Linked DNA regions of Homo sapiens. The protein of the gene in region 1 interacts with the protein of each later gene in a pairwise test. Each region holds a gene or a part of one and is shown on either strand. Other genes may lie near its edges. The genes, in order: ZNF319, BEGAIN and VWC2.

Evidence for each region.
Region 2: the proteins of ZNF319 (region 1) and BEGAIN interact in binary tests that used the Homo sapiens proteins (3 or more experiments, as listed by UniProt).
Region 3: the proteins of ZNF319 (region 1) and VWC2 interact in binary tests that used the Homo sapiens proteins (3 or more experiments, as listed by UniProt).

Annotation. Positions count from the first base shown.
Region 1 is NC_000016.10:57,997,570-58,005,213, forward strand, and holds the start of ZNF319 (zinc finger protein 319), read right to left. Parts: upstream 3,104-7,644; 5' UTR 1,924-3,103; intron 954-1,923; 5' UTR 697-953; coding exon 1-696. Other genes in the region: USB1 (U6 snRNA phosphodiesterase 1), read left to right, coding at 3,915-4,012, 4,910-5,076. UniProt on the Homo sapiens protein: May be involved in transcriptional regulation.
Region 2 is NC_000014.9:100,584,371-100,591,869, forward strand, and holds the start of BEGAIN (brain-enriched guanylate kinase-associated protein), read right to left. Parts: upstream 3,048-7,499; 5' UTR 2,921-3,047; coding exon 2,879-2,920; intron 1-2,878. UniProt on the Homo sapiens protein: May sustain the structure of the postsynaptic density (PSD).
Region 3 is NC_000007.14:49,776,581-49,783,683, reverse strand, and holds part of VWC2 (brorin precursor), read right to left. Parts: intron 1-7,103. UniProt on the Homo sapiens protein: BMP antagonist which may play a role in neural development. Promotes cell adhesion.

The DNA.
Region 1 (7,644 bases):
GCACTTGTAGGGCTTCTCACCGGTGTGGATCCGCTCATGCCGAGAGAGCTCCGACAGGTGCTTGAAGGGCTTTTGGCAGATGGGGCAGCTGTAGGGCTTGTCGGCCTGTTCAGCAGGGGTGACAGTGGAAGGCGCGGGTGCTGCGGGAAGCGACGGGGCGGCTGTGGTGGCTGGCTCCGCTGCCTCAGCTGGCTTGTAGGTCTTTTCACAGATGGAACACTTCACCAGGCCACTGTGGGAGCTGTGGTGCTGTGCCAGTGAGGTGAGTAGTGAGAAGCCCATCTTGCAGACCCCACAGACGAAGGGCTTCTGCTCAGCCTGCACGCACTGGTGCTCCAGCAGGTCAGTGGCCTGGTGGAAGATCTTGAGACACTGTGTGCACTGGAATGAGCGGTCATGGCCCGCCAGACACTGGTGCTCATGCGGACTGGACAGGTGCGCCAGGTCGTGACCACACACGCCACATTTGGGGCCTGGCTCTCCTGCTGCCTGCAGGGGTGCGTGTTGTGGGGGCTGCAGGCCGGGGTCTGGCTGCAGGAGGATGCCATAGACGGCACAGCCCAGGGGGTTCTCCGCCGTGCCCGGAGGCAGCGTGTGCTCTGCCAGGGCTGGCGGTGGCTCTGCATGGTGCTGAGGCTGCGGTGGCTGTGGCTGCTGCGGCTGCGTCTGTGGCGGCTGTTGCCAGCTTTCCGACATGCTTGGGAAGATGAAACAGGGTTTGGAGAGTAATGGCTTCAGTTTCCCGCTTCACGTGACCCAATCCAGAGAGAGAAGCTGCCCAATCACAGAGATGGACAAGGACCTCAGACAAGGCACAGAAGAGGGGCTGGTCAGACAGCCCGAGTCAGTAACCAAGCGGACAGACTACAAGGCTCTGCCTACAGGACATGGGGGCTCTTCAAGGGAGGGTCCCAGCAGTGCCGGGGAGACTCTGCCTTCCCCAGTGATCCGTTCTGTAGAGAAGAGAGAAAGTATGAGCTCGAGGAAGGAACAAGCAGCAGTTTCCTGGGCCTTCTCCCTGTCCTGCCCGCACTCACCACACCATCACAAACCACACATCGGGGAAGGCAGAGGTGCTCAGGGCTGCAGGACTCCTCCCTTCTTAGGCAATCAGAGAGGTCTGCAGCCAGCTCAGCTCCTCCAGGCAGAGGAAATGGCAGCGGCCTCCACCCCCACCCACCTCAGTGCCCCGCCCCTGGGCCAGGACATCCCAGCCTCCACAAGTCCCCTCCAGCTTCCTGCCAACCCTTTAGCTGAGACTCACAGGTGAGAGTCCGGGGTTATCTGCCTACAATACAGAATCCTCCTTAAGGCCCGCAGCTCCTCTCCTGTTGCTACCCTGAGTCTTAATACGGGCCACACCACTTAGAGCTAAGGAGGCCAGACCTCCCAGGTCTGAGAGCCCAGTGGCAAATGGCCTCTGACAGTCAATATTTAGGACAACTACGTGGAACCAAGGACCATTTCAAAAACTCTCACCTATGAGGGACTGACCACACCCCTTCAACTATCCCTGACCACAGGCCCATTCTCTCTCCGCGTGACAGGATGGGTGGCCCTACAGGAACCAGAGCCCATAGGTGATGGGGGCTAGATGAGAGGGCCACAGAACCACCCAGGCTTGATGTCCACACAGCAGAACTTCCTCACTCTGGTTCTCTCCCAGAACTCACACACACACACACACACACACACACACACACAAAGTCCTAAATCCTCTGAATCTCATAGTGTCAAGGCCTGCAGGAAAATGTAAGAAACTGCCCTGGTCTGCCTTGGCAATGCAGGATGCAGCATGCTAACCACAGAGCATTTCTCATCACCTCTCTAGAGACAACTCCATTCCCTTACTCCAAGCCTATAAAGTTCTGGGTAATTGTTGGAAGGTAAAGCCCACCCAGCCCAGGCAAATCTCTAACTCACCACTTTGTGGCAGCATGAGGTAATGCCAGCGAGAGGGAGGAACTTTCAGAGTCAGATGCAACCCACTTCCAGGTTCCCAGCTCATCTGCCTCTTACATTTAAAAGTTTGTAAGTTTTCTCCTGAGCAGAGGAAGAAGGAAGGAGAAGCCTTCACAGGACAGTCTGGCCTCTAACTGCTCTGCCAAAGAAATGTAAGAGTCAGGCTAAAAGCTGTCATCCTCAGCATCTTCCGGAAGGGAGGGAGGAGAGGAGCGGCTGCTCTGGGTGGAGGCAGCAGGTTGCTTGAGCAAGCAGGTACCACTCTAAGCCTTCTCGGGACAGAGAGGGGGAAGGTGGGCTTCTCTGAGCGCCTGTAGGTCCGCTGTGCCAACCCACTGTTTTGTTTGCTTTTTCTGGCATGAATGGCTGTCAGACAGTGTCCCCTGGCTTGGTCTGCAGCACCCCCTGCCCACCCTGGCCCTCCTGCAGCAAGGTGCAGCCAGGAAGCCTCTGTGATCACTCCGCAAAGGGGAGAGAGGAGGCAAGGAGAGGCAGGGGAGGCCCCCCACCTGCGCCCCACCCCGTCTCTTCTTCCTCCCTGAGAAACCGAATGAAAGCCGATCACCTCCCGCCGGCCCTGCCTGCAGGCCCAGCTGGGCTGCGTCCTGTCAGCCCTCGTCCGGGATGGCCCGGCCGCTGCGACCCGAGGGCGAGCCCCGAGGGCGGCCGGGCTGGAGAAAGGCCCCAGGGCTACAGGCCGGGCCCAGGAAGCGGCTGCGCCTCGAGGCCCGGCCTGGGCCGCCCAGAAGCTCAAGAGGCCGCTAGGTCGCGGCGGAGGGGCGCGGGGGGGCGGCCGGGCCGGCAGAGGAAGGGGTGCGGCGGGCGCGGGGGTGGCCCCCAGATGCGGCCCCGGGCGCCCCGCCGCTCACCTGCTCCAGGCCGCCTGCAGGGCAGGCGCGGGGCGAGCGGCGACCAGCTGCTCTCTCGGCCGCCCCTTTATTCCGGCTCCATCCGCGGCGGCGCGGCCTACGCGCGCTGCCAATCCCCGGCCTCGCGTAGCGGCTGCGGCCGGACCGGGGGCGGGGGACGGGCTAGCGGCGGCCGGAACGGAGGAAGCGACGCGCGCTGCCGGAGTAGCGGGGCCGGGGCGAGGAGCGCCGGGAGGGCGGGCGGACGGACCGATGGCCTTGCGGAGACGGGCGGACGGGCGGGCGGCGCGGGGGCCAGGGAGGCGGGGCCGGGGGAGGAGCGGCATCCCGGGCGGCGGCGGCCAATGCGGGAGGAGCGGGCGGCGCGGAGCGAGGCCGCCCCCTGCCGGGGACCCCGTGGCCGGGCCAGGTCGGACAAGCCGGGTGCTCCGGGCGGTTTTCGAGTCGCCAGGCCTGGGCGCCTCGACTAACCGAGGAAGGGCGCTCTGCTTCCGGCCACCCCGCTCGGGCTTAGGGGAGGGGGCTCCGGGTGACCGCCCTCGGCCCGGCTCTGCGCAGGAGAGGAGGGGCCTCCTAGAGGCTCTGGTCTGCCACAATTGATCCGCCCCTAACTGCTCAGCTTGGCTTTTAGGGGCTTGGACTTTGGGCTGGTTTGAGGAGGGGGCTCCAGGACCTCTGATCCTGGCCGGGCTCGGGGCAGGCAGGGGTCTCCGCTGGGTCTAGTGCGCTGACCCGGGACTGTCGTGTCTGGTATGTCTGGTCCCGGGTGGCTGCAGACAGCAGCGGGCAGAAAGGTGAGGGCCCTGAGCGATATATGAAATGGGTACACGAAGGCTGGGGAGGTCCCAGCGGGGTGCCGGGAGGCTGCAGGTGACCAGATCCGCGTGCGCAGCCGGCAGACAGCTTGGAGTCGGTGGGCTGAATCTTCACCACTGTCCTGCCGGGTTCCGCCCCTCCCGGCTCCGCCCCGAGGCGGTGCCAGCCCAGGCCCCGCCCCTGGGAGGGCGCTTCCGGCACAGCGGAACTCCGGGTGCCGGTTGAGGTTGCTGGTGGACCTGCTCTGGTGGTCTTGGATGAGGCCCCATGAGCGCGGCGCCCCTGGTGGGCTACAGCAGCAGCGGCTCCGAGGATGAGTCCGAGGACGGGATGCGGACCAGGCCGGGGGATGGGAGCCACCGTCGGTGAGGAGTGAGGAAGTCTCTCCGGAGGGCGCGCGCATTCACCCTAGAGCCAGACGGGACCCGAATGTCTGGGGGTGGAGTGGGGAGGGAGGATGCGGGGCGGCTCTGGGAAGGAAAAGGGGACGCAGGAAGAAAGGAGGATCCAGAAGATATACCCCTCCCCCCCACCCCAGACAAAGCTCCAGAGTGGCCCCACCTGGCTAGGGCCAAGTTGGGAGGCCAGACCTGGGTTCGGGTCCAGCCTCGCGCTGGCCCACTCTATCGCCTGGCACACATCCCTGTACCATCCTAGGTCCGTTTCCTGATTTGAATACAATTGCGATAGTAATACTTGCTAAAGCGTAGGGAGAGCCTTTTCATTCATCCAGTAAATATTCACTGAGCACCCACTCCCTGCCAGGCTGGGGTCTGGTAATTCAGTGGTGAACAAAACCGTCGGCCTTACTTCCTGGGGCTTAGATTCTTAAATGCTAGGCCTTATCTTTGCTGAGTGCTTTACAAGCAGTAGCTCAGTTGATCCCACAATTGCTCTATCAGGTAGACATATACTTTCAGATGAGGCATTTGAGGCCCAGAAAGGGGACATGACTTGCCCAAGGTCATAGAGCTAGAAAGTGCTACTCCAGCTGCAGCCTGTCCAGCTTGGAAATGTGACCCCTGAACCACATTGTTGCATGCCCTGTTGTTTCCCATGGGGACCTTGTGCCCCAGAGTTGGAGACCCCAATGAGACAATACTGGAGAAACAATTTCGCTATCTAGAAGCTGCTTCCAGCACCAGGCTGGAAACACACACTCAGAGCCACCATATATAAGGGGTTACAACTTTTGTGGTATATACAAAGGTAGAGAATGCTAACAGGATAAATGTACTCATTTTTCTTTTTTTCTTTTGCAGTGGCCAGAGCCCCCTTCCCAGGCAGAGATTTCCAGTACCTGACAGTGTGCTGAACATGTTCCCGGGCACCGAGGAGGGGCCTGAAGATGACAGCACAAAACACGGGGGACGGGTGCGCACCTTCCCCCACGAGCGAGGCAACTGGGCCACCCACGTCTATGTACCATGTGAGTGATGTGTGAAAGGCAAGTTGCCAAGACCCATAGACCCGTAGGTGCCTCATGAAGGGCAGAATCTGGCCCCAACTAGAAGGAAGAAACCAGAAACCTCTAACACTGGTGGTGGGAAAGTCATTGACTTAGCAGAGAAAGAGCAGGTTTCAAGAACTGGGGATTTTTCTGTCATCTTGGTTTTGAATTCGTAGCCTAAAATGTGTATTACCTCTGGGTATAATATTCTCCCTGTTCACGAGGAGGTGACCAAAGGAGAATCTGGAGCAGGGTGTCAAGGTCATGCCAGGCACTTTATTTCTGAGAGGGCCCTGGGTACGCTGGGTGTGCAAGGTTCAAATCCCACCCTAGCTCTGATCAGCAGGTGGAAGACAAAAAATGCCCAGGCTTCAGAGTCAGACCTCACTCCGCTGCCCACTACTCTGGGTGCCCTTTATAAGATACTAGACTTCTCAGAGCTTCAGTTTCTTCAAATCTAAAATGGGGGTAGCACTGGCTAGGCCAGGTGGCTCACACCTATAGTCCCAGCACTTTGGGAAGCGGAGGCAGGCAGATCACTTGAGCCCAGGTGTTTGAGACCAGCCTCGGCAACAGGTAGAAACCCTGTTTCTACCAAAAATACAAAAAAATTAGCCAGGTGTGGTGGCACACGCCTATGGTTCCCACTACTTGAGAGGCTGAGGTAGGCGGATTGACTGACCCTGGGAGGTAGAGACTGTGGTGTGCCAAGATCGCTCCACTGCACTCCAGCCTGGGTGACAGAGTGAGACTCCATCTCAAATAAGACAGTTTGGTGGCTTCTTACAAAACTAAACATACTCTTATCATAAAATCCAGCAATTACATTCCTTGGTTTTTGCCCAAAGGAGTTGCATTTGGTATTGACAGTGTTCTGGAGTTTAGCCATTCTAATAGGTGTGTAGCAATATGTCACTGTTGTCTGTTAATTTGCATTTCCCTGATGACATATGATCCAGATCATCTTTTCAATGCTTTTTGCCATCTGTGTATCTTCCTCAGTGAGGTGTCTGTTAAGGTCTTTTGCCCACTTTTTAATCATTTTTGTTTATTAATATTAATCATTTTTGTTTATTAATAAATTTTAATCATTTTTGTTTATTTAATATTATGATGTGGGTCTAATATTGGATCTTAAAATATTGAGTTTTAAGAGTTCTTTATATTTGAAATAATAGTCCTTTATCAGATACGTCTTTTGCAAATACATTTTTTTCCCAGCCAGTCGCTTGTCTTTTCATTCTCTTGACGTTGTCCTTCACAGAGCAGAAGTTTTTAAGTTTAATGAAGTCCAGCTTATCAATTATTTCTTTCATGGATCTTGCCTTTGGTGTCATATCTAAAAAGTTGTCACCAAACCCAAGATCATCTACATTTTTCTCCTATGTTATCTTTCAGGAATCTTACAGTTTTGCATTTTACATTTAGTTCTGTGTCCATTTTGAGTTAATTTTTGTGAAAGGTGGAAGGTCTGTGTCTAGATTCCTTTTCTTATATATGGATATCCAGTTATTCCAGCACCATTGGTTGAAAAGACTCTCTTTTTCACATTGTATTGCTTTTGCTCCTTTGCCAAAGATCGGTTGACTGTATTGATGTGGGTCTATTTCTGGGTTCTCAATTCTGTTCCATTCATCTATTTGTTCACCAATACCATTGGTGAACTGTTTTGATTGCTGTAACTTTACATAGTTAAGTCTCGAAGTTGGGTAGTTTCAGTCCTCCAACTTTGTTCTTCTCCTTCAGTAGTGTGTTGACTATTCTGGGTTTTTTGGGGGCTTTTTTTGGTTTTTTTTAGAGATAGGGTCTCACTATATTGCCCAAGCTGGTCTTGAATTCCTGGGCTCAAGCAATCCTCTGGCCTCAGCCTCCCAAAGTGCTTGGATTACAGGGATGAGCCACAGCACTTGGCCTGTTTTGGTTTTTTACCTCTCCATGTACACCTTAGAATCCGTTTGTCAGTATCACAAAATAACTTGCTGAGATTTTGACTGGGATTGTATTGAATCTGTAGATCAAATTGGGAAGAACTGACATCTTTACAATATTGAATCTTTCTGTCTATAAACATAGAATATCTTGTAGGGTCCAGCCCCACTGGGTCGGTGGGTTTTCTCCCTGTGTGCGGAGACGAGAGATTGTAGAAATAAAGACACAAGACAAAGAGATAAGAGAAAAGACAGCTGGGCCCGGGGGACCACTACTACCAAGACGCGGAGACCGGTAGTGGCCTCGAATGCCAGGCTGCGCTGATATTTATTGGATACAAGACAAAGGGTCAGGGTAAGGAGTGTGAGCCATCTCCAATGATTGACAAGGTTACGTGAGTCACGCCACTTGGACGGGGGCCCTTGCCTGCCTGGCAGCTGAGGCAGAGAGAGAGAGGGAGAGAGAGAGGACAGCTTACACCATTATTTCTGCATATCAGAGACTTTTAGTACTTTCACTAATTTTGCTACTGCTAGCTAAAAGGCAGAGCCAGGTGTACAGGTGTGAAGGCAGACTAGGAGCATGACCACTGAAGCACAGCATCACAGGGAGATGGTT
Region 2 (7,499 bases), on another chromosome or scaffold:
TTCCCTTCCTGGCTAGAGGGGAGAGAAGAGCCCCAGCAGCTCCTGACTCCTGCCGTACTGGCCAAGGTCCATGTCTCCCAGCAAACTGTGGACTCGTGGAGGGCAAGGTCTGTGTCAGACTCACCTAAGTGACCCCAATGAGCAGTGCAGAGTGGGTGCTTAGGTACAGCATGTTAGGTGAGTGTAGAATTCACACACTTAGTCATTCATCATTCATTCATTCATTCATTCCTATAATGATTAAAGCAATAGAGACACCTCTGGCCAGCTTCTCCCACCACAGGCTACAATCTGATGCCTGCTCTCAGGCCACAGAAGTCACTCCCCTGACTGTAATGGGTGTTAAGCTTCTGATACGGAGCCCTAGAGAGGAGACAGTGAGTCAGCGGCAGAGGAGGAACCAGAACCCAGGGCTGCAGACCTCCGTCCAGGCCTCTCCACTAAGGCTAGCGACCAGCTCTGCGGCAGGAAGGGGAGTCAGAAGAGAACCATGCGGGGTGATTCTAGACCAACACGGCGAGTCCTAGGGTCACCCACCCATCTGTCCCAGGGATCCTTACCTCCCTTAGGGGGAGGAGCCACACCTCCCCACCGCCATGGCTTCCACACTCCAGCAGGACACAGCCTCTCTAAGTCTTGAGACTTGAACACTCTACACTCTCCCCATCACCTTCAGGCCTTGGGCCAGGCTCCTGTAACACACCTTGACCCCTTCATCTGTTCAGCAACTACTCAGCCCTTGGACCCCACCTCCTGGGACCCTGGGTAATGATTTGTGGACTGTGTCCAATAGCCATGGACTCATGGGCTTCAGTCAATCCCTCCCATCCATCCATCCATCCATCCATCCATCCATCCATCCCTCCCTCCCTCCCTCCCTCCCATCCATCCATCCATCCATCCCATCCATCCATCCCTCCCATCCCTCCCATCCATCCCTCCTTCCCTCCCTCCCATCCATCCCTCCCTCCCTCCCTCCCATCCATCCATCCCTCCCTCCCTCCCTCCCATCCATCCATCCCTCCCATCCATCCCTCCCTCCCTCCCATCCATCCATCCATCCATCCATCCATCCATCCATCCATCCATTCATCCATCCATCCACTCTTCAGCATCAGGAGTGCCTGCAGGAGTAGGGAAGCTCCTTCAAAGTGTTGCCGTGGAGATGATGCGTGGAAATGCTGATCCAGGGCCCAGTACATAGCAGGCGTTCCATAAATGGCAGCTATGTGGGCCAGACCCTGCGCCCAAGTCTTGGGAGAGTGGATGGAAGATCTTCCAGATTGCTTAGGGCTCATTTCCTCTCTCCAGGCCTGGGCTCTGACAGGTGTCCCCCTACTCCACCCCAGCGCATGGAAAACTCATCCTCCAGGCTGAGGTTCTAGGCAGCCCTCCCCTCCCCACTCAGCTCCCAGGTGCGAACAGCTCCAGGTTTTGACGACAAACGGAACGCGGAGCCTTGGAATCTATAAATATGAGACAAAAGCTGGGGAGGGCCCTTGGCGGCAGCGCAGCCGCCCATCGCCCAGAGCCCGTGTGCTGAGCCCGGGCAGAGCCGCATCTGCCACAGTGCTTGCTTTTCCAAGCTGCCCTGATTATAGTGAGAGTCGGGAAAATTAAGGGTTTGCAGGATGCTGCTGGGGCCCTCTCTGCCGTCTCCCCGCCCTGCGTGTCACAGATGCCAGGCAGAGCCACCCCCAACGGCCAGTTGCCCCTGCTGGCAAGACCAAGGCCAGCCTGGCAGGGCTGCACACCGCAGTTTGTTAGGGGCTTCTGCCCACAGTCCTCGTGGGAGCCTGGCCCTGGGAGTAGTGGGGGTCTCTGCTGCTCTTGGCAGGCAGAGGAACTAGGGTCCAGAGAAGGAAAAGAACCTGTCCATGGCCTCCAGAGAGCCAGAGCACTGGGGCCTCCGACGGAGCCTGGCTGTGGAGACCCCGCCCCACCCATACCCCCAGGGCCTGGACCCCCAGTCTGCACTGGCGGCCGACCTTGGCCATGCGGACTTTGCACGTGCAGTGCTCCCTATCCATCCGGCCCCGCTCCCGGGTGCCCACTCTGCTCCCATTCTGCCGGCTCAGGAGACTCCAGCGCGTCGCCCACGCTGTTCCTGCCCTGAGGAAACCACATTGGGGATGGGGTGGGGCACAGACGAGGAAGGAAACACCTCTAAACCAAGCAGGAAGCGGAAACGCTGGGGCAGAAATTCCCATCCAACGTGCTGGGGCTCAGGGAGGGTGAGCGCGCCGGCTGAGCCGCTCTGGGCGAGGCCCTGGCCTCCCTGAGCCTCAGTTTCCTCGCCTGTAAAGGGGCAGGAGGATAGTACCTGCCGCGAGGTACTGAATGGGATGGTGGTGTCCGAGGTTCGTGCGCGCCCACGCGCTGCAAACGCTCAATGAGGCGGCCCCGGGTCCAGCCTCCTTCCGGCTCCCGGGCCTTTCTCCGGCCTCCCAAGCAGGGGCTGGCCCTGCCCCCAGACGCAGGCGGGTCCAGGCCTGCCCGCACCCTCGCCACCCGCCCGGGACAGCGGCGGGTCCCCAGTCCTCCGGCCGCGCCCTTGGTCACCCGTCCCTCCTTTCCTTCCGCCGCAGGGGCGCGCGTGTCAGGGCGCAAGGACCCCGCGATAGGACCCGGGCGCTCCCGGCGGCGCGCGGAGGCTGGGCATCCCCGCCCCACCCGAGAGTGCCCAGTTCCCAGGAGACCCGGCCCGGCTCCTCCCGGGCCAGTGAAGCCTCCACGGCGGGGGCGCAGCGCGGAGGGGAGCGGGGCGGGGGGCCGGCCACCTCCCGCGCTGAGCAGGGACCGCCCCAGGCGTGGGTGGCGCCCGCCCCGCCTCCGCGCCCGCGCCCGCGCCCTGCCCTCCCGGCTCGCAGGTACTCACCGCCCGGCGCAGCCGGCCCGGCCGGCGACCGCCAGTCCACATGGCCCCAGGGCAGCCGCGCCGCTCACCGCCGCCGCCGCTACCGCCGCCCCCTCCCCTCCGAGGCCGAGCGCGCCGGGAGCCGGCGCGGCCGGGGCTCCCCCACCCCGCCCGGCTTCCCGCAGGGAGCGCCCGCCCCCCGCCCCCAGCCCGGCTCCCCGCCAGCCCCGGCCCCGCGCAGCCGCGGCTGAGCCCGCGCGTCCTCCCGGCAGCGCCCGGCCGGGGCGCAAGTGGTGGGCGCAGGGCCGGGCAGGGGCGCGGGGGTGCGGCGTGCGCGGGGGCCAGGCGAGGAATGGCAGAGGGGCAGGGAATGAATGAACCCGCGCCAGCTTGAATGGCTGAGCGCGTGAATGAATGAGTGCGGTAGAGCATGCGGGGCTGGGGGGGCGGGGGGAATGAATAAATGAGAGAACTAATGCACGGGCGCGAAGGTGAGTGACAGAGTGAATGGGCCCTTGAAACCCAGAGGCTGTCAGTAATGACCTGCCCAACCTTTTCATCGGTCCATCCATTCAATCCCTCAACATTTATTAGACACCTAGTGTGTACCAACCAGCCCTGCTGTAGGCCCCAGGGGGTACAGTAGCGAGTGAAACCAAGCTCCTGCCCTCGCAGAGTCACATTTTACAGATGAGGAAACCCTGGCTCCCAAGGGTGCCTCCTGGCCAAGCTGCCCCTTACCCTGCCCTTGCTCTGCCCGAGCCCCCAGTCGGTGGCTTCCAGGGCTTGCCTTCTCCCCAAGGAGCTCTCAGGAAGGGAAGGTGGCTTCAGGAGGACCAGTGTTGCCCCCTGCCTATCCCTCCAGTCTGAAGCATCCCACCGACCTGCCCGGTAGAGCCCAGGCTGGCCAGTCCTACCCTGGTAAAGGTGCAGCGTGAACCCTCCTCTCTCCTCCCAGAGCGGGCAAGGGGCAGCCCTGAGGGTGCCAGCTACATGAGGGTCTTCCATCCCAGCCAGCCCAGCAGCAGCCAGCGTGGGAACCCGGGGAGGAGCACTGGCAGCCAGGGAGGGTCCTGCGTGGTGGAAACAGAGCTGGCAAAGCCCGTGTGCTTCGCTCATATCCTCCCTCGGGACCTATGGGCTCATGGTTCACACATGCTTATATCATTTCCAAGTACATGGCAGATTAGAAGATGCTGCGAATGAGTACCTTGTATATTTTTGTTTTTTAATTGTGGAAAACATGGAAAACATAAAATTTACCATTTTAACCACTTTTAAAGTGTACAGTTTGGGGACACTGAGTTCCCACTGTTGAGCTGCCATCACCACCATCCTTATATGCTGTATGTTGTATGCTTTGCAGTTTCTACGCTCTCTCATTTAATCTGGGGAGTAGGTTGCTACATTCAGGCAGTGTCAGTGCTGAGAAAAGGCACTGATAGCAAGGCAAGAGGGGAAACCCAGAAAAAAAGGAGACAAGCAAAAGAACCAGCAGCTGACTGGAGCCACTTCGTGTCAAGCAAAGTCCTGTCTCTGCTCCCTCTCAGGTCCCAGGGACATGATTGGGTAACCAATGGACAGAGGGAGGCGCCTCCAAGTGCACCCCACCACAGTCAAGACAAAATGAGAGGCGGCAGCTCAGGGCGGGGCTCTCCCAGTTTGGGCGAAGCGTGGACAGACTTCGCCCAAACCGTCGCTGGTGTGCACCACGGGACCAGCCTCTTTGCTCAAGGGGGCCTTAGTCTCCCCAGCAGGAGTAGGGACAGGCTCCCTGACCTCCACTCTGGCCTCTCAGGTTCAGACACCATTCAGGCAGCACACAGCAGTGGAGGCATCCTGTGAGAGGTAGTGAGGCCCAGCCTGCCAGCTCCAGTGTCCCTTCCCTCCCCAGTCCCTAAGGGGACAAACACCAATGGGGGATGTGGAACCTGGGGTACAGGCAGGGCTCTGCCCACATTGCCTCCTCCTGGGCTGCGGCCCTTCCCCAGAGGCTGGTCCTGCTCAGATGGTGCCAGAATGTTCACCGCCCGCCCTGGCACTGCTGCTGCCAACGCCACAGATGGCTGGGGAGGCGGGGGAGGGGCGGGTGGGGTGGGGGCGGCTCCTGCTTCAGCTCCAGCAGCTTGCAGGCTTCAGCTCAGGCCTGCCTGGGAAGGCCCCAGGAGAGCCCCTCCCCCATGCTGCACGCACCTCCCGTCCCCACCCTCCCTGCCCTCTCTTCTATCCTTCCCACTCCAGCCCCCTTAAGCTAGGAAGGCGGAGAGAAAGCAGGCATTGGTTGTGGGTCTGGGAGCATCCCTGCAATGCCCCTGTAGGGGAAGTGGTACTAGCCCCTTTTTGCAGATGGGGAAACTACAGTCAGTGCAGCAGAGCCTGGGGCATCAGGCAGGCTTCCTGGAGGAGGCAAGGTTTCAGCCGGGTTGGGAAGAAGGGATGAAAGTGGCAGGACTTCGAGGTGATGCCCTGGGGCCATGGAGGACCCTCTCCTCAGGCCCCTGCCCTCATTCAGACCTCTACGGACCACTCTGTTTGACATCACCATCCCCATGGCTCAATCTCGTTGCCCTATTTTGTTTTTTGCGTGTCTCTTACTGCGTTCCAGAGCTATCTGATCTGTCTGTTGATGTGGACATCAATCTCCCCGCTGGGATGCGTGGTCCTCTACTGTGGTCAGGGAGCAGGGCAGGAAGTGGCACCACACTGGGGCTCATGGTTAAATGTGCCAAAGAATGCATGGATGGATGGAGGTGGGGGAGATAGGAATAGCCTGGTGTGATGCCAGGCTTCTGGCCCTGGTGGCTGAGTATAAAAGAAAGGACAGCACGTCAGGGAAGTCATTGACAGTGAGGCACCCGCAGACAGCCACATACAGGGGCTCCAGCATCAGCTAGCCATGCTGACCAGTTCCCTGCCTCATCTTCCAATCCCCACCCACAAGAACAGATTGAGCAAGGGTTCTGACTATGAGCCCTAGAGAATGGGAAGGTGAGAGGTATCTTCCCACTCTCCCACAAACAACAGGTGCTCCAACTGAAACTCTGGAGTCCCCTGCAGAATCGGGCTACAGCTGCCCTCCACAGGTGGTGAGAAGGCCCTGAATTGGCCCAAGTGTGTATCTAACAATGACCCCAACTGCAATATTAACCCAAATTCCAACCTATATCAAATGCTAAACCTAACTCTAATGGGACCCAAAACCAAAGCAAACTTTAACCCTACCCCAATGCTAGCCTGAACAGTAACATGAACCCTAAACCCGACTCTAACCCCAACACTGTCCTGCCAGAAAGCAATAACCTCAACCCACACCACACGCTAAAGTTAACCCAGACGCCAACCCAAAACCAAATCCCAAAAGGAACATTAAACCAAACCCCAACCCAGCCCTAACCCTAACACTAAACACTGCCAAAAACACCCCAAGCACTAGCCCAAATCCTAACCATAATCCCAACCCCAAACCTAAGCCTAATCCCAACCTGACCCTAACCCTAATCCCAAACCAAATCCTAACCCTAATCCTAACCCCAGCCCTAACCCTAACCGTACCCCGCTGCCCTGTTCCTTCACCTGCTTGTCCTGGGAGCAACGATGAGGGGGGCCTGGGACCGTAGGAAGCGGGCACAGGCAGCTGGGAGCCTCGTAGGTGCTCTGTCCGAGGCAGGTCCCAGGCCCAGGGGTCTGGCCCACTGCTCCTCCTGGGGTGGTGCTGTGAGCCCCTTGGCCTCCACCCCACTGCCTGCCCTGCTCTGTCTCCATGGGAAGCAGCAGTGGCCTCCTCCCTGGGCCTCTGCCCCTGTCAGGCCTTTCCAGCAGGTGGAGGTGGTTTGGATGCTGTGGCTTGGGCTTCAAAACTGTAAATAGGGGAAACCATTTTCAAACAAATATTTGTCAAGCAAAATCCCATCTCATCTCAGTGTGACTGGGCTTATCTCTTTATGCCCTGGGCCTGGGTACGGAGGGCACCATCCTGGGCCTCCCATGCTTGAGCCTGGGCAAGGGGAGCGGACACAGAGCAGGGGATGGCACCGAGGTGGCCTCACTAAGACAGAAACTGCCACTGGGTGTGCGTGCTGCTGCGAACAGTCAGCAGGGGTTCACCAAGGCCACCTGGGGGTCTGGGCTCCTTCAGGGGCCCACCTGCTAGGTCCTGGGCCAGGCTCGGCCCTGCTGCTGCTGTGGTGCCCTCCCCAGCCAGGCTGAGCTCCGGCTACATCATCCCTGTCCATACCTTCTGTTTCCGGGTCCTTGCACAGGGAGTTCCCTCATCCTGAGATGCCCTTCTGTGGAGTGTCCATGTGGAAACCTCCTCATCTCAGCTCCCAAAGTTGCTTCTTCTTGCAAGCTTTCCCAGATTGCTCCCAGCTAGGCCCCTCCCACCTATCCCACTGCTGATGCCCGGCAAGGCTCATAGTCAAAACCATACATCAGGCTAAAAGAGGCATCTAGCCCCTCCTTGCACACCTCAGGTGATGAGAAATTCCCCCCAAGAAGTCTCTACCGTTTAACAATGGCCCAGAAAGTTCTGAGCTACAACTGTGGCCCCACAGGGGCAGGGCTAACCCCCTCTGCCGAGGCAGGACAGTGTTTCAGGGGGTTGGAAACCACCAGCGCCCTCCCGTCTTCTCCCAGCCATTTC
Region 3 (7,103 bases), on another chromosome or scaffold:
ACATCATCCTTTTCCACAGATTTGAAAGGCAGTCTATGTCCTGGCCGCACCCCAGTGCCCGACAGAAATAGAATGAGAAGTATGATCCAGCTGGCAGGATCTCAGCCTTGGAACAGACAAGCAGTAAGAAGGATTTCCAGCTACGTGGTCAGAAAAGTACCATGAAGGATGGTCACAGGGTAGGTAGGCCTGGGTGGGAAGCCATATCCTTCATGCAAACTCACAGTTGTTACATTTGATACACTCTTTTCTTTTCCCTAGAACATCTGGCCCAGGATTCCTCTGTCATTTAAAAACAAGCCATCAACAACAGTGGAGTCTATTAATAATAATAGAGTGGCTTCTACTGTGTGCCCCCTTGACCCCCTGACCCAAGCTCTCACAGTGCCTCACACACCACACTACTGCTGCCTGTCTCCTGGAGGGGGCCATTTACTTCCCGTCACATCTCTAGGATGCAGCCCAGGGCCTCACACACATGGTGTCCTAAATATTTTCAAATAAATGTAAGAATAATGTTTCCGTTGGGACTTATCAGATTTAGAGATATCATCTGAGGAGGTAATGTTTTATGGAAAAGCAGCTCCATGGAGCCAGTCCCTAATGATTAGAGGTTCTACAAGAGTCCTTCTAGAGACCAAAATCTGGACCAGGGCGTGGCTACCTCCCCCTGAGCTGCACACTCTGCAGAACTTGTCTAAATATCCACATGAACTTTGTTCAGAGCTTTACAGGTTCAAATTGCTTTCACATACATCTTATTTACTTCTTATAATGGGAGAGGAATGCAGAATACTATCCACTTTTTTTTCTTTTCTTTTCTGTTTTTTAAGATGGGGTCTTATGCTGTTGTCCAGGCTGGAATGCAGTGGCCCAATCATGACTCACTGCAACCTCAAATTCTTGGGCTCAAGCCATTCTCCTGCCTCTGCCTCTCAAGTAGCTGGGTCTACAGGTGAGCACACCAACATGCCTGGCCTTTTTTTTTTTTTTCAATTTGTTGTAGAGATGTGGCCTCACTATGTTGTCTAGACTGGGCTTGAACTCCTGGACTCAAGTCATCTTCCCACCTCAGTCTCCCAAAGTGCTGGGATTACAGGGATGAGTCACCACACCAGGCCCCATTATCTTTTTTTTTTTTAACCACTAGAAAACAAGGCTCTGAAAGTTGTCCAGGGAAGCACTGGATAAAACAGAACCCCATTCACCCCACCGTTCAGATGATAAGTACCCTGTCCTCAAAGTCCCAGAAGCTGATTCTCCACCAAAACTGAAGAGGAAAGGACTGGAGAGCATGGGACCTGCTTTCCTAAACCTCCTCATGATATCAACTGCCTGTATGATTTTGGAGGGGGCACTAATTTTCTAAGGTGAATTTTCACTGCCTATGAACAAGAGGCTTTTCAAAGTCATGTATTTATTTACAGGAGCATGGGTGAATCACACATCTGCAAGGGGGGTGTGGTCAGCTGGAAAACAAATGCCCTCCCAAAGGGGCAGCCCTGCCCAGCTCTGACAGATGGCTGCCATCTGGGAATCATTTCATTTTTGTAAGAATTAGGCAATCTGGGAATTTATATGAACCTCCCGCTTGTCAAATACAGGCACTAGTAAACAAATGTTTTATATGCCATGAGCCAAATAGAATACCTCCTAGAACCAGATCTTCCTCTTGGGCCACCTGTTGCCCCACATGGGTCTGATAATCCCTGGAGTCCTACCTGCCTCTTGGGATCTAGTCTTCTTTTCACTGCCCCCTGGACTCATTCCCCCTTGCTCTCAGGGAAATCCTGGGACTAAGTGCTTTTAGTCCCATTACGACTCAAGACTTCATCCTTTGAAGGACACAGACATTATTTTGTTCATCAGATGGCCAAGTCAAATATGACAAATCCATGTAAATAAATGCTTAGCCAAGTGGATCAAGCATTTATTGGACATACATATAAGCAAGGCACTCTGGGCTTGTATAACTTTTCCTTTTTCCGGGTACCTGAAATGTTCTCCACCACACGCAAAATGCCACTTCATCACCATATGGTCACGAAGACACTATGCACGATCTTCAGAGTCCAACACGCTAGGATTCAAATCCTGTCTTCACCATTTACTAGCTCTATGACCTTGATCAAGCTATTTAACTTTTTCGGACCTTAGTTTTCTCTCCTTTAAAAATAAAGAAAATACCACCAACTCAGTCTGTTGTGTAAATTACTCCAGAAAAGCCAATATATAAAAAATATTGGCACTAGATAAATATTGATTCCCTTCTGCCCACTGTAAAAGATTATGGTGTTAATTCTATCATACTTCACATCAGATATTGTATGGAACATGCAAATAAGCAGTTTTTAAAGCTGTGTTTCCCCCACCTGAGTTAGGAACACATCTAAAGAGTCTAGATATGGCATATGACTCCCTCTTTAAAAAAAAAAGTCACTGTTTAAATGGCTTTAGACACAAGGGTAGAAAATGAGAAGTAGAGAATTTACAAAATCTTACTCAGAACCAAAACAAACTCAGAGACAGCAACAGTACATGCATTAGCCTGACTTGCAGAAAAGAACACAGATTGACTCATTTTACTTAGTGAAGGTGGATAATAATAGCATTGTTTTCAGTTAAGTAACATCAGCCAAAAGAATATAAATACCATTAGACTGAAAAGTGTGAATAACCGTAGCTTTCTCTTTGCTGGCACTTTCTCATAATTGATATAGAGATCTATTTAGATGAAGGTTTTGATTCCAAATTTCATGTTCAAATTTTTTTAATTGATAAAAACCTAGAAATAAGATTTTGCAGTGGGGTTAATGGCAAGTCAGATACGGAGGCAGTCAGAGAGAATTTGGTTTAACTCAGTGGTCCCAAATCATTTCACCTCCAAGTACCCCTTCCTGTTATCTCTCTCTCAACAGTTCTTATGCTTTGAAAGACAGTCTAGTAAGCTTCACTTATTAATAATTCATCTTCCCTTTTTCTTCAAAGACTTATACAATTGCCAATCAGAGCTCCTGATCGGCTACGATAACCAGTGTTGACACACTTTGCTGATATCAATCCTACCAAAAGCAAAGAAATGTGAAGATTTAGTTATCCTGTATGGCCCTATTTCAGAGTCACAAAAATTCCATTAGGTTTTATAAAACATGAAATAAGCTTGCAAACTCCCCTTTCCACCATCACAGTCCTCCAGGAGACCAAGATTCCCATGATGAAAACAACTTGTTTTGTTGAGCAAAATAGAATGATTTTTTTTCAATTAACACATTTCAAATGTGATTTGCTTCTGAACAAATCATGTGGCCACTGAGGCAAAATTTACAACTGCTCAATACAGCCCCTCTCCCTACCCTTAGTCACCTTTTAGTTTTCTGTGACACAAGGATCCATTCACATAAGTAATACAGGAACTCCTAAAGTAGCTCTCAGAATGCAATAGACACAGAATCAGAATGGTCAAGTTGAGCCCCTCAGTTAATGTTCATTGGCATACACTTCATCACCACTCACTCCGTGCCTTCGTCATAAGCACTGTTTTCCCATCATGTGTGCTGATGCATCCTCACACACCCCACTGTTACTACCTCGTTAGGTCTGTTTTAGGAAGTCAATTTTGGTCATTGACACTATGTTTTGGGCTAACCTGTGTGCTTCTACAATTCAAATTTTGAAGTCCTCACGCCAGTAGCTAAGAATATGACTGTCTGGAGACAGGTCTTTAACGAGGTAATTAAGTTAAAATGAAGTCAGGCCCCAATCCAATATGAGTGTGTCCTTATAAGAAGAGGAGATGTGGACACAGACAGATGCAGAGGGAACACCATGAGAAAACACAGGAAGAAGATGGACATCTGCAAGCCAAGGAGAGAGGCCTCGGAAGAAACCAGCCCTGCTGACACCTTGATCTTGGACTTCCAGATTACTTGGAAATGTGGAAGTCTGAAAATCTTGGATTTCCAGATTTATTCCAAGACAACAAATTTCTGTTTAAATTACCCAGTCTGTGTTACTTTGCTCTGGCAGCCCTAGCAGACTAATGTACTGTAGGAAGCAGAAAACAGTTAAAAATATCATTCCTTTACTGAAAAAAAAAAATAAGCCAATAGACAAGTTTCCTTATTCAAAGTTGGATGCCTGCTGGTATAAGTTAAAGAAAAAAAGACACTTGGTATCATTTGAGAGGCAGTGGAGAAAATTCTACTATTAACTATGTTTTTATTTGGATGTACAAATTAAATTACAACCATCCCTGGAGGAATGAACACATTACTCTCATTATTATTAGCAGCTTAATGGTATTTTGTGGAGTCAGTGAGATCTTTCACAAGTATCTAACTGAGATCAAACAGGCTGTAAAGAGAGGAAGTTTTAATGGGGTAAAAGAGTACAGAAAGAAGGGAAAAAACAAGTTTAGAATATGCAGAAAACTGAGTAGAGAAAGCAGCAACAAAACATGCCCAAAGAAAGAGAAGCCTATGAAGACAGGGAGAAACCGCACTCCTGCCGGAGCCAAATACCCTGCACATCACAAGCACAGCCAGGCTCTGGAGTTAATCTACTGCTCAAAGAGGGTCAAGCCTCCATCAATAACTAGTAATTTCCCCTCTCTCTCTGTCTCTGTCTCTCTCTCTCTCTCTCTCTCCCTCTCTGGAAGCAGAGAACAGACTGTTAAAGGATCTATGCATCTTGCAGGGACTGAGGCCCAAATAATCTCACTTTCACTTCCTTCCTTGCTAAAGTAAACAGTGTTCCAGGCATGACCCGACTGTACCACAATCTCCATTTGAATCACATTTTCTTCAGAGAAGTGCAAAGCACTTCAGACAGAATGCTTTCCTTTTTCATTTTCCATGTACTTTGTGCTATGCACATTACAGACTACAATCTCTCTCTGAAACCCAGAATACCCAGAGCAGGCATGTTAACAATTTCTGTGCCCTGGTACTCAGCATCATGACAAATCTCCATTACTGCAACCCACAAAGCCCGTGGACTCACAACTAACCCTATACCATTCTACATTCATATTTTCAACATTCTTCAAAAAAAGCATTGCTTTCTCTTTTGTACATTGAAGGAAACAAAAATGGAGACAATAAATGGCTTGCACAAGGCCACGATAAATTAGCAGAATGCCTAGAAATGTTCCCGATACTAACAAAAATGAGCAAACATGCTCTAACACTATAAAATCTTTATGTAGTTGACATATTGTAAGAACAAGCATATAATTAAAAATATGTAACAACTTTGCAACGTTCAAGCATGTGTGCATCCCAGCATCTGGTAATAAATGATGAAAGTTTAGAATGAAACGTCATTTGAAGATGGAAGATGCACTTAATATTCCAAAAATAGCTTTACTGGTATTTTAATTCTTCCTAAGATTGTAATCTTTCCAATTTCCCTTTTGTCAATATCATCTCCCATCCTCAGAGTTTGAAAACACATTCTACCTATGGACTACCAAACAGGTAGCAAAGAGGAAATTAAATGAGAGATCCCTCTCCTCCATAGACAAAAGCAGCTTCATGGCTGCTAGCATTTAGCATGAATTGTTAAGACAGAAGTTTGAATTATTTCCTTTACCTGTGATCTCAGGTAGGTAAGTGGACACTGAAGTATTTGGGCTTACTAGATCAAAGTGCTACTAATTCCTCAGTTTACTTCTAAGGACAATTCCAGAAAATTACTATGAAACTATAAATAGTGCAAACAACAAAAGGAATTAATTAAAAACCAACTGCTTATCTTTGACTTTAGAAGAGCCGATGATGTTACCAATTCAAAACTTAAGAGAATTGTTCTAGTGTTCTATGACCCTGCTCCAGGCCAAAATGGAAGGCCCCTCCTCTGAGCTCTTCTAGCACCCACAGGTTCCTTTACCTGGACACATTTGCCTGTGAACTTTTGTTCTGCACCCAAAACACCTGGAGAGATATCTACCAGACCCTCCCGTAGGCAGGAAGCATTTTGAGGGCAGGGTTTCTGATTTAGTTAATTTTGCATGGCCTGGGCGTGGTTCATATGAGTTGCTCATCCCAGTTGTCTTTCTCCAAAGGGCTGCAGTCAAATGTGAGTACTTAAGCAATGTATGCCTGGAGTTATATTTTGCTACATGAGCCTAGGGAAAGCTGGCCCCTTATCTTACAGATAAGAGAAAAGAAACCCAGAGGGCATATGTCTTTTGTTCCAGTCCTGCAGCTGGTTAGTGGTAAAGCCAGAATGAATAACCATGTTTCCTGACTCTAAATTCCAGCACTCTTTCCATACTTTGTACACTATATATAGATCTGTCCTTCCTGGCTTTGTACTTATATAACACTTGATAATTCATTGCCACAAGTCAGTAATTACATGGGCTTCACATCCTGGGAATTAGCAGATCTCACAGGCTAATTCCAGGAGGGGTATTCCAGCAGAATTCCTCCCTAAACCTTTGCTTTAGTAGCTGCACGTTCCATAACGCCCTCTGCAGGTGGGAAAAGGACAGCTATGGCCTGGTAAGTCAATGGGCTAAGTCCAGGCAGGCCATAGGTTGAACCTACCTTGAGGTGTTTGGAATAACTGAACACCTGTGCAGGTCTCTCTCAGGCCCCTAGCCCACTGGCAGAGATTTTACCTAGAGCCTGTGCATGCATGCTGTGCAGCACCTTCACCCAAACTAAAGCCCCAGTGGAGCTGGGCTTTTGGTTCAAGTAGAGTATAAGGGTTAAAAACCTAAGCTATGGAGTAGAACTGCTTAGTTTGACATATGAATCTGTTTCTTAATAGCTGTTCTGCCTTCAACACATTATTTAAATATTCTGTGTCTGTTTCCTCTTCTCCATAACATGGAGACAATGGATAATAATCCACCTCCTAGCATGGGATGAGATTTAACTAACGTACATGAAAACCAGCGGGATCCTGACGCACAGTAGGCATTAGAGAGATGGCCGGTATTATTAACATTACTACTACTCATCTGAAACAAAACAATTTTTAACCATTAACTGCACTTGTTGGTTTCACCATCCACTATGATTTGGCACCCAGTGAGCAAATATTTTCTTTTTCTTTTAATTTTTAGAACATTTGCATGATACCCTAAACACATA